Homo sapiens: one gene and its partner. The protein of the gene in region 2 purifies or fractionates together with the protein of the main gene of each other region. This does not show direct contact. Each region holds a gene or a part of one and is shown on either strand. Other genes may lie near its edges.

What was found. The genes of interacting proteins can lie anywhere in the genome.
Region 1: the proteins of SNRNP70 (region 2) and SNRPF purify together in Homo sapiens (affinity purification with mass spectrometry; 6 studies listed by BioGRID and IntAct, with this or other methods). This does not show direct contact.

Annotation. Positions count from the first base shown.
Region 1 is NC_000012.12:95,864,296-95,867,558, reverse strand, and holds the end of SNRPF (small nuclear ribonucleoprotein F), read right to left. Parts: intron 2,236-3,263; coding exon 2,171-2,235; intron 1,555-2,170; coding exon 1,488-1,554; 3' UTR 1,419-1,487; downstream 1-1,418. Other genes in the region: CCDC38 (coiled-coil domain-containing protein 38), read left to right, coding at 370-483. UniProt on the Homo sapiens protein: Plays a role in pre-mRNA splicing as a core component of the spliceosomal U1, U2, U4 and U5 small nuclear ribonucleoproteins (snRNPs), the building blocks of the spliceosome.
Region 2 is NC_000019.10:49,086,614-49,091,950, reverse strand, and holds part of SNRNP70 (U1 small nuclear ribonucleoprotein 70 kDa), read right to left. Parts: intron 1,661-5,337; coding exon 1,598-1,660; intron 1,486-1,597; coding exon 1,431-1,485; intron 1-1,430. UniProt on the Homo sapiens protein: Component of the spliceosomal U1 snRNP, which is essential for recognition of the pre-mRNA 5' splice-site and the subsequent assembly of the spliceosome. SNRNP70 binds to the loop I region of U1-snRNA.

The DNA.
Region 1 (3,263 bases), on a different chromosome or scaffold from region 2:
AACCATGGACGAAAAACTGGCTATGGCACTTACTGAGAAATAAAATGGTGGCCTTCAACATGGTGCTTTTCTAGGCTGACCACATTTGAACCATATACTATTTGATGACTTTACCTAAGTTTTCCCACTTCCCAATAAAACCTAACTGCTGTTCCTTCTGCATAGTTATTGGTGTCCAGTTTGCTACTCAACTTTGCCTAGCATGTTAGACATCCGTTAGGTTATAAGTCCCTTTTAACTGTGATTAGTTAATGTTACAAACCATATTATTCCTTGTAAAAATCAAGTTAATATTGGTATTTCACAAATTTCAATAGAAAATGGCTATGCTCAAAAAATATTAAGTATTTTGTTTTTCTTTTGTTTCAGTTGGGAAGACGACTTGTCTTTCATTCAAAACCTCCATCTGGTAACAAACAGCAGCTACCTTTAGTCAATGAAACAAAAACAAAATCACAAGAGGAAGAATATTTTTTTACTTGAATAAAAGCAGTAAGACATTTTATTACCAGAATGTCTTAGGTGTATTTTGTAAATTTTAAGTCTTTAAGTATTCATATCATAAGTATTATTCCATATAGCTAAACACTTTCTTCTATACTTTGAGTTGTCCCACTTGGGGATACACAAAGATAGTTTACTGATAAAACTATGGTAAATGAACACTGAAGTGTAATAATGGCCATTCTCTTACAACATGAGAATGTAAATGATGTATTTTCTCAACCCATCTGTAGGGAAGTTCATAGCATACTGTTATTACTATGGACTATACATTTTAACAATGTACAACCCTAAAATACCTGAAGGGTTTTGAGGGGCTTAAAACTCAACCTCGAGGTTATGTCTCAGAACATAATGGGGAGACTGGTTTTTATTTGACATTACATTTTGTTCAGAGAACTTTTTTCTCTTCAGTGAACAAACCGTATGCCTTCAGCCTGAATGTCAGTTCCCAATTTCTGTTGTGCCCTGTCTGTACAATCATTTTAATTTTTAGAAGATGCTTCAATTTTAGCTGCAATATGTGCATTTAGCTTATATTGACACAGAATTAACATGTAATTTATTGACTACTAAGTAAAATAAGACAGTATATTATTAATACCAAGAAAATGTTTAATTTTATACGTTAAAAGTAGCTCAAAAATAACTTTAAAAGAAAAAGTTGCATTTAAAAGGTCTCAGCTAATAGATAATTTTACAAGAAAAGGTCTGAAATTCACCTTCATAAAAATATCTAAAGCATATAAATAATTATCCTTTATGGGAAAAAAAAGAATATTGGGCTTACAAAAGAAAAGCAACTTAAATGAAATTCAGTGGCTTTTAAAGCATTAGTTCAGTGAGTAATCTTTCCCAATTGGTTCATCATTTCAGCTTTGCTTGTAAATATCTGAATACAAATAGTTCACAAGTCAAGTTGAAAAACAAACAAATCTTTATTGTCTAGAAATATATATAAAAAAAATCCCCCACAAAAGATGCTATTCTCTCATTTCCCCATCTTCTTCCTCTTCTTCCACACCTCTGATATAAAGGACATTATTACACCTGTAAATAGAAAAAGTCGATTTTGTTGTTCCAACCAGAAACCATGTATGATATGAATTACTATATTTTTATTATGAAAATACTGAATACTATATTTATAATATTCTTGTCTTTAAAAAAATTTTTTAAATATATTCATTTTAAAAAAAAGTTTCACATAGATTTGTTGAAAAGCACATGGCACTTATTTTCCACCATATGGTTGTTATAAAATGACATCTTTATGATTTTCCAAAGGAAATAATTACCAGAATTTGGAGCTTTGAAGCTAGTACAGAAAATCAATATAACAAAACAGCCAGACCCAACTAAAATTCAAAACTAAGTTCCCGCAACAAAGGCCACTGCAAAAGGTTGCCACTGCAAAAGATTATAGCTAAGAGCTAGAAAATTAAACATCAACACTAGAAAAATCTTTTGGCCAGTTCCAAAACATTTGAAAACTTACCTTTGACAAGTTTAACAATTTCAAAGACTTCTGAAGTCTAACTGTAAAGTATTATAATAGTGATTTTTTAAAAAAAAGTAATTCCAAAATTGAGGCACTAATATATTTAGAACAGGTATTCCTAATGCTCACCAGTAACTCCTTACATATACTACTGCTGTTTGTTACCTTATTAAAACTTCACCCAGATGTCCAGACAAAGCTCCATCTATGTATTCTTCTGTATTTGCAAGCTTTCAATAAAAAGAAATATATTAGTATAATCACACAGGAGGAAAATATTACAATACAGCTAATATTGGTGAGAGAACTCATTAACTGAGACCTTTCTATACCAACAACTCAAATTTATCTATAATTAATAAACAGAAGATGAGCTTTCTATTACTATTGTAGTACTTTTGGTTTCATATAAACCTTCAACGAAATTAATATTCAAAGCTTGTTTCAACATAAGTTTCTGAATCTCCCAGGTTATGTAATATTTCTTTCTATTAGATATTAAAACAGTGTGTGGAAGAAGGCAGTCTCTAACTCATATTGAGGTGTCCAAATAGGTATACGAAAGCTATGGCTAACATGCCAAATACTTTTATATTAGTCAACAACCAAAGCAAATAATTGAGTAAGAATTTTCTTCTTTTCCTGTCTTTTAAGAAACAGGGTCTCCCTCTGTTGCCCAGGCTGGAATGCAGTGGCACAATCATAGCTGACCAAAACCTTGAACACCTGGGCTCCTCCTGCCTCAATCTCCTGAGCAGCTAGGACTAAAGGCATGTGCCACAAAGCCTGGCTACTTCGAAACAATTTTTTCTGTAGAGATGAGATCTTGCTATATTGCCCAAGCTGGTCTTGAATTTCTGCCTTCAAGTGATCCTCCTGCCTTGGCCTCCCAAAGTGCTGGGATTACAGGCATAAGCTATCACATCTGGGCCTGAATAAGAATTTTTAATTATGTACTAATAAACAGGGAAAAACAAGTTCTTAAGAGAAAGGTAAATAGTTAACAGTGACCTTTACAGCTATTTTGGTGAACTACAGCAAAGTAGTGTGTTTCCCTTATGGTATTATTATGAATCGAATGTCTGAGCTCTTCTTACTTTACCTACAGTTATTTTGGTGAATTATTTCTAATTTTATATCAAAATGTTTAGCTTTCCTTCTACATATAGGTAACAAGCTCTACTTGTAATTAAAAGAAAAATCACAATCAATGCCACTTGGGACTCAGAGAAGGAACTAAGGAGTGATGGGAGAGAGG
Region 2 (5,337 bases):
TTAGAAAAGGTGTTAGAAACAAACTGCATGGCAAAAAATGAGGTCATGACCGGCACAGCTGAATGTCTATGTCCCAGAGAAAACACCCAAAGGAAACCAGGTTGGTGGCGAGGGAAAACCCCTGTGGTTTGGACACTGAGTCTGAGATGCCTCTGAGGCAGGACATCAAGACAGCGTTCCGACAGCCAATGTCCAAAGAGTGCACCGCCAGATGTCTCTGTCACGCTTCTGCGTAAGCACCGTGAGGAAATCCTGCACTCCAGGATTTGGAGGAAAGGGATTCATCAAAGTTCACAGGTATAGGAGGAAAACCTGTCTTCTCACTAGAGTCATGTTCTGAGAAGTGCGTCGTTTGATGATGATGTCGATATGCCAACATGAGATGGCACTTCCACGAGCCTAGACAGCATACCTAACACTCCTGGGCTAGAGGGTGCGTCCCACTGCTCCGAGGCCAAGCGTGTTACTACACCAAATACTACAGCAATCCTAACACAATAGTAAGTATTTGTGCATCTAAACGTTATCAAAGCATAGAAAGGGTACAGTAAATAGACGGTATAATCTTTTTTTTTTTTAAGACAGATTTTTGCTTGTTGCCCAGGCTGGGTTGCAGTGAGCCGACGCGATCCCGGCTCACTGCAACCTCCGCCTTCTGGGTTCAGGAGATTCTCCTGCCTCAGTCTCCCGAGTAGCTGGGATTACAGACGCTCGCCACCACGCCCAGCTAATTTTTGTACTTTTAGTAGAGACAGGATTTCACCACGCTGGCCAGGCTGGTCTCGAACTCCTGACCTCATGATCCGCCTGCCTCGGCCTCCCAAAGTACTGGGATTACAGCGTGAGCCACAGTGCCTGGCAAAATATGATATAATCTTATAGGATCACCATCACATCCACGGTCCCCTGCTGAGTGAAACACTGCTATGCTGCCTGTGACTGTACAGTTTTCACTTTCAGAATAAAGAGCCACTGGAGGTTGACATCTGACCCTCTTATGAGTTTGGTTAATGGCAACAACACACCTGTCTTGTACTCCAATTCCTCCTCTATGTGGAGGGGATGGAACATCCTCAGCCCAAGGGTTGGGGACCTAAGGTTAGAGCCAGGACAGACCACTATCCCACAACCCACCACTTCAGCCTGTGACACCCAGCTGGGTTGTGGGAGCCCCTTAACTGTCCTCCCATGCAGGAGGAGCCCAAGGTACCAGGGGTCTCCCTTCCTGCCAACTTTTACCCTATGTTCTGCTGCTGAAAAGCCTAAACCAAAAACAGTGCTTGTGAAGTGGCAGGGGCTAAACAAATGAACTAACAACCCTGTTCCCCACAACACAGGCCTTAGGGAGACAGCAGGGTCCTGGGTATGACCTGGGAAGAATACAGAGGGTTTGGGAGAGGAGAGAGCCAAATGGTGGATGAGAGACTTACACATTTTAAGCTCTGTCTCCACTTCTTGCTGTCGCCGCTCAATCTTTTCCCGTCTCTGTCAGGAGAAAGGGGAGGTGGAGAAGTGAATGCAGATAGAAGTGCCCTAGTGTCAAGGATCATCTGGAGACAGTGGTAAAACAGGGGGTCAGGAAGCAAAAATGACATACTTTCCTCTCCATGCGCTCCTCTCGGGTTTCAGCACGAGTTGGAGGAGGGGCATCTCGAGGGTCCTGGGAACAAGAAGAGAGGTGACAGGGTGGGAAGGACTGGGGGAAATGGCAAGGGACACTCACCAAGGAAATAAACAGGTTAACCCTCCCACCCCCACCCCCTACAAAAATAAACATCCACGCACACTTCCCCTGACACAGTGGAGGGAGGGGAGTGGCACAGATCAAAGCAAGGTCTGCAGCCACGCACAGTGGCTTCCACTTGTAATCGCAGCACTTTGGGATGATGACACAGGGAGAATGCTTGAGCCTAGGGGTTTCAGACCAGCCTGGGACAACACAGTGAAACACCATCTCCACAAAAAATTTAAAAATTAGCCAGGTGTAAAGGCCGGGTGCAGTGCACACGCCTGTAATCCCAGCACTTTGGGAGGCCGAGGCAGGCGGATCATGAGGTCAGGAGATCCGAGACCATCCTGACTAACATGGTGAAACCCCACCTCTACTAAAAATACAAAAAATTAGCCGGGCGTGGTGGTGGGCGCCTGTAGTCCCAGCTACTCGGGAGGCTGAGGCAGGAGAATGGCATGAACCCAGGAGGCGGAGGTTGCAGTGAGCCGAGATCGCACCACTGCACTCCAGCCTGCACAACAGAGCAAGATTCCGTCTCAAAAAAAAAAAAAAAAAAAAAAAATCCTGTCTCAAAAACTAAGCATGGTCCATGGACCAGTACTATCTAAACTGTTGCTGGACTGTGATAAGTACAGAAACCAGGACTAAGTGTTCAGGAACTTCTACAGTAATTTCACAATTTGATGTCCACTGACTCTTAATACAAATTTGGTCTTTTATTCTGTAGGTCTTTTTTTTTTCTGAGACGAAGTTGTGGTCTGTTGCCCAGGCTGGTGTGCAATGGCGCGATCTGGGCTCACTGCAACCTCCGCTTCCCAGGTTCAAGCGATTCTAAGCCCTGCTTTCCCCCCTGTGCCCGTCTCTCTAAAAGGAACCCAGCAACTGACTAGAATCGTTCAAGCGGTTCTCCTGCCTAAGCCTCCTGAGTGAGTACCTGGGATTACAGGCACACGACAGCATGTTGGCTAGTTTTTGCATTTTTAGTAGAGACAGGGTTTCACCATGTTGGCCTGGCTGGTCTTGAACTCCTGACTGTAGATCTTTCTTTAAAAAGTAATTCTATCATATTTATCAAAAGCAAACAGATTGGAAACAGTATCTGTCCTTCACCAAAGACAGTTTGAAAAGCACTGGTACAGGTGACATCTAGCTTTATAGTATTTAGGAAACACCCTGTCTTCCATATTTAGGAAAGACATTGCTTCTCACAGCTCCAAGTATCACTCACATTGAACAAAGTGCCAGAGGATGTGATGGGAGTGGAGTGATGGCAGGGCCCTGCTTATGAGTGCCAGTGAGGATGACCAGGCCTAAAGCAACATAAGCTGACAGAACAGGGCTCCAAAGCCCACAACTGCACACCCTCTGAGGGCCAAGGCAGCTCTTAAAGGTCTCATCAACCACACATTAAATAGGAACTGGCTGGTAGGGTGCAGTGGCTCATGCCTGTAATCCCAGCACTTTGGGAGGCCAAGGCAGACAGATCACAAGGTCAGGAGTTTGAGACCATCCTGACCAACATGGTGAAACCCCGTCTTTACAAAAAATACAAAAATTAGCCAGGCATGGTAGCGCGTGCCTGTAATCCCAGCTACTCAGGAGGCTGAGGCAGGAGAATCCTTTGAACCCGGGAGGTGGAAGTTGCAGTGAGCCTAGATCACGCCACTGCACTCCAGCCTGGGCAACAGAGCGATACTCCATCTCAAAAAAAAAAAAAAAAGGTCGGGTGCGGTGGCTCACGTCTGTAATCCCAGCACTTTGGAAGGCCAAAGTGGGCAGATCACAAGGTCAGGAGATCAAGACCATCCTGGCTAACACGGTGAAACCCCATCTCTAAAAATACAAAAAATTAGCCAGGCGTGGTGGCGGGCACCTGTAGTCCCAGCTACTCGGGAGGCTGAGGCAGGAGAATGGCATGAACCCGGGAGGCGGAGCTTGCAGTGAGCCGAGATCACGCCACTGCACTCCAGCCTAGGCAACAGAGCGAGACTCCAAGTCAAAAAAAAAAAAAAAAAAAAAGTACCTGGCTCCCAGGCATGGTGGCTCACACCTGTAATCCCAGCACTCTGGGAGGCCAAGGGGGGTGGATCACCTGAGGTTAGGGGTTCGAAACCAGCCTGGCCTACATGGTGAAACCCCATCTCTACTAAAAATACAAAATTAGCCAGGCGTGGTGGTGCATGCCTGTAATCCCAGCTACTTGAGAGGCTGAGGCAGGAGAACTGCTTGAACCGGAGGCTGCAGTTGGCTAAAATCACGCCACTGCACTCCAGCCTGGGCAACAGAGCAAAACTGTCTCATAAATAAATAAATGGTAACTGGCACATGACCTGCATCATCAAAGGGCACCTACCACCCGCCTGTGCCCATTAAGTTAATTGGCCAGTAATATCTCTCAAGTGCGGGTTCACCAAGGGTGGCAAATCCCACTGAAGACATACCTTTCTGTTATCTACGAAATTCTGCTCTGCAACTCCCTCGCCTCCAGCTGCCCTTACCTACCCAATGCTAGAACGTTCTTCTTGTAACTTCCGACTGTGTGCCAGCTTTTCTCAGGTGTGCTCTGATGCACCTAAGAGATGACCCTTGTCATCCCATTTCACAAATAAAAACACAGAGGTCCAGGAGCCTAAGTCATTCATTCCTATTTATCCCAAAGGTGCAGAGCTAAGATCCCCATCTGCAGTTTTAAGCCCTCCAATACTCAATACTGGGTGCTAAGCCTTTATGAACATCATCTTATTAACAATAAAAGTAGTAAACAGAGTAACAAAGGCTGACATGTGCTGACTGCTTGGTGCCAAGCCCCCTGACATACAGTTTGCCATTTAATTCTCCACCAACATTATAAGGGTGCTACCACTATCCCCTTGCTAAAGATAAAGAAACCAATGCATTAAGAGGATACAACATTTGCCCAAAGTCAGAGCTGATAAATGGTGTGGGTTAGGCATGAATCCTCAACCACTACTCACTGAATTTTCACAAAAATTCTACAAAAGGTGTACTATCAACCCCACTTTTTTTTTTTTTTTTTTTTTGAGACAGTCTTGTTCTGTTGCTCAGGATGGAGTGCAGTGGCGCGATCTCGGCTCATTGCAACCTCCGCCTCCTGGGTTCAAGTGATTCCCGTGCCTCAGCCTCCCAAGTAGCTGGAATTACAGGCACCATGTCCGGCTAATTTTTGTTATTTTTAGCAGAGACGTGGTTTCACCATGTTGGCCAGGCTGGTCTTCAACTCCTCACCTCAAGTGATCCGCCTGCCTCGGTCTCCCAAAGTACTGGGATTACAGGCGTGAGCCACCGTACCGGGCCACAACCCCACTTAAAAAAAAAATTTTTTTTTTGAGAGACGAAGTCCTGCTCTGTCACCCAGGCCGGAGTATAGTGGCACAATCACAAAGCACTCCAGCCTCCGACTCCTGGGCTCAAGCAATCCTCCCACCTCAGCCTCCTGAGTAGCTGAGACTACAGACGCACTCGACCACACCCGACACCCGGCTCCAACCCCATTTAAAACAGAGAAACTGAGGATCACAAAGGTTAAGCCCCTCGCTTAAATCACGCAGCTGGCAAAATGGCCAGAAGCTGGACTCGCAAATCCA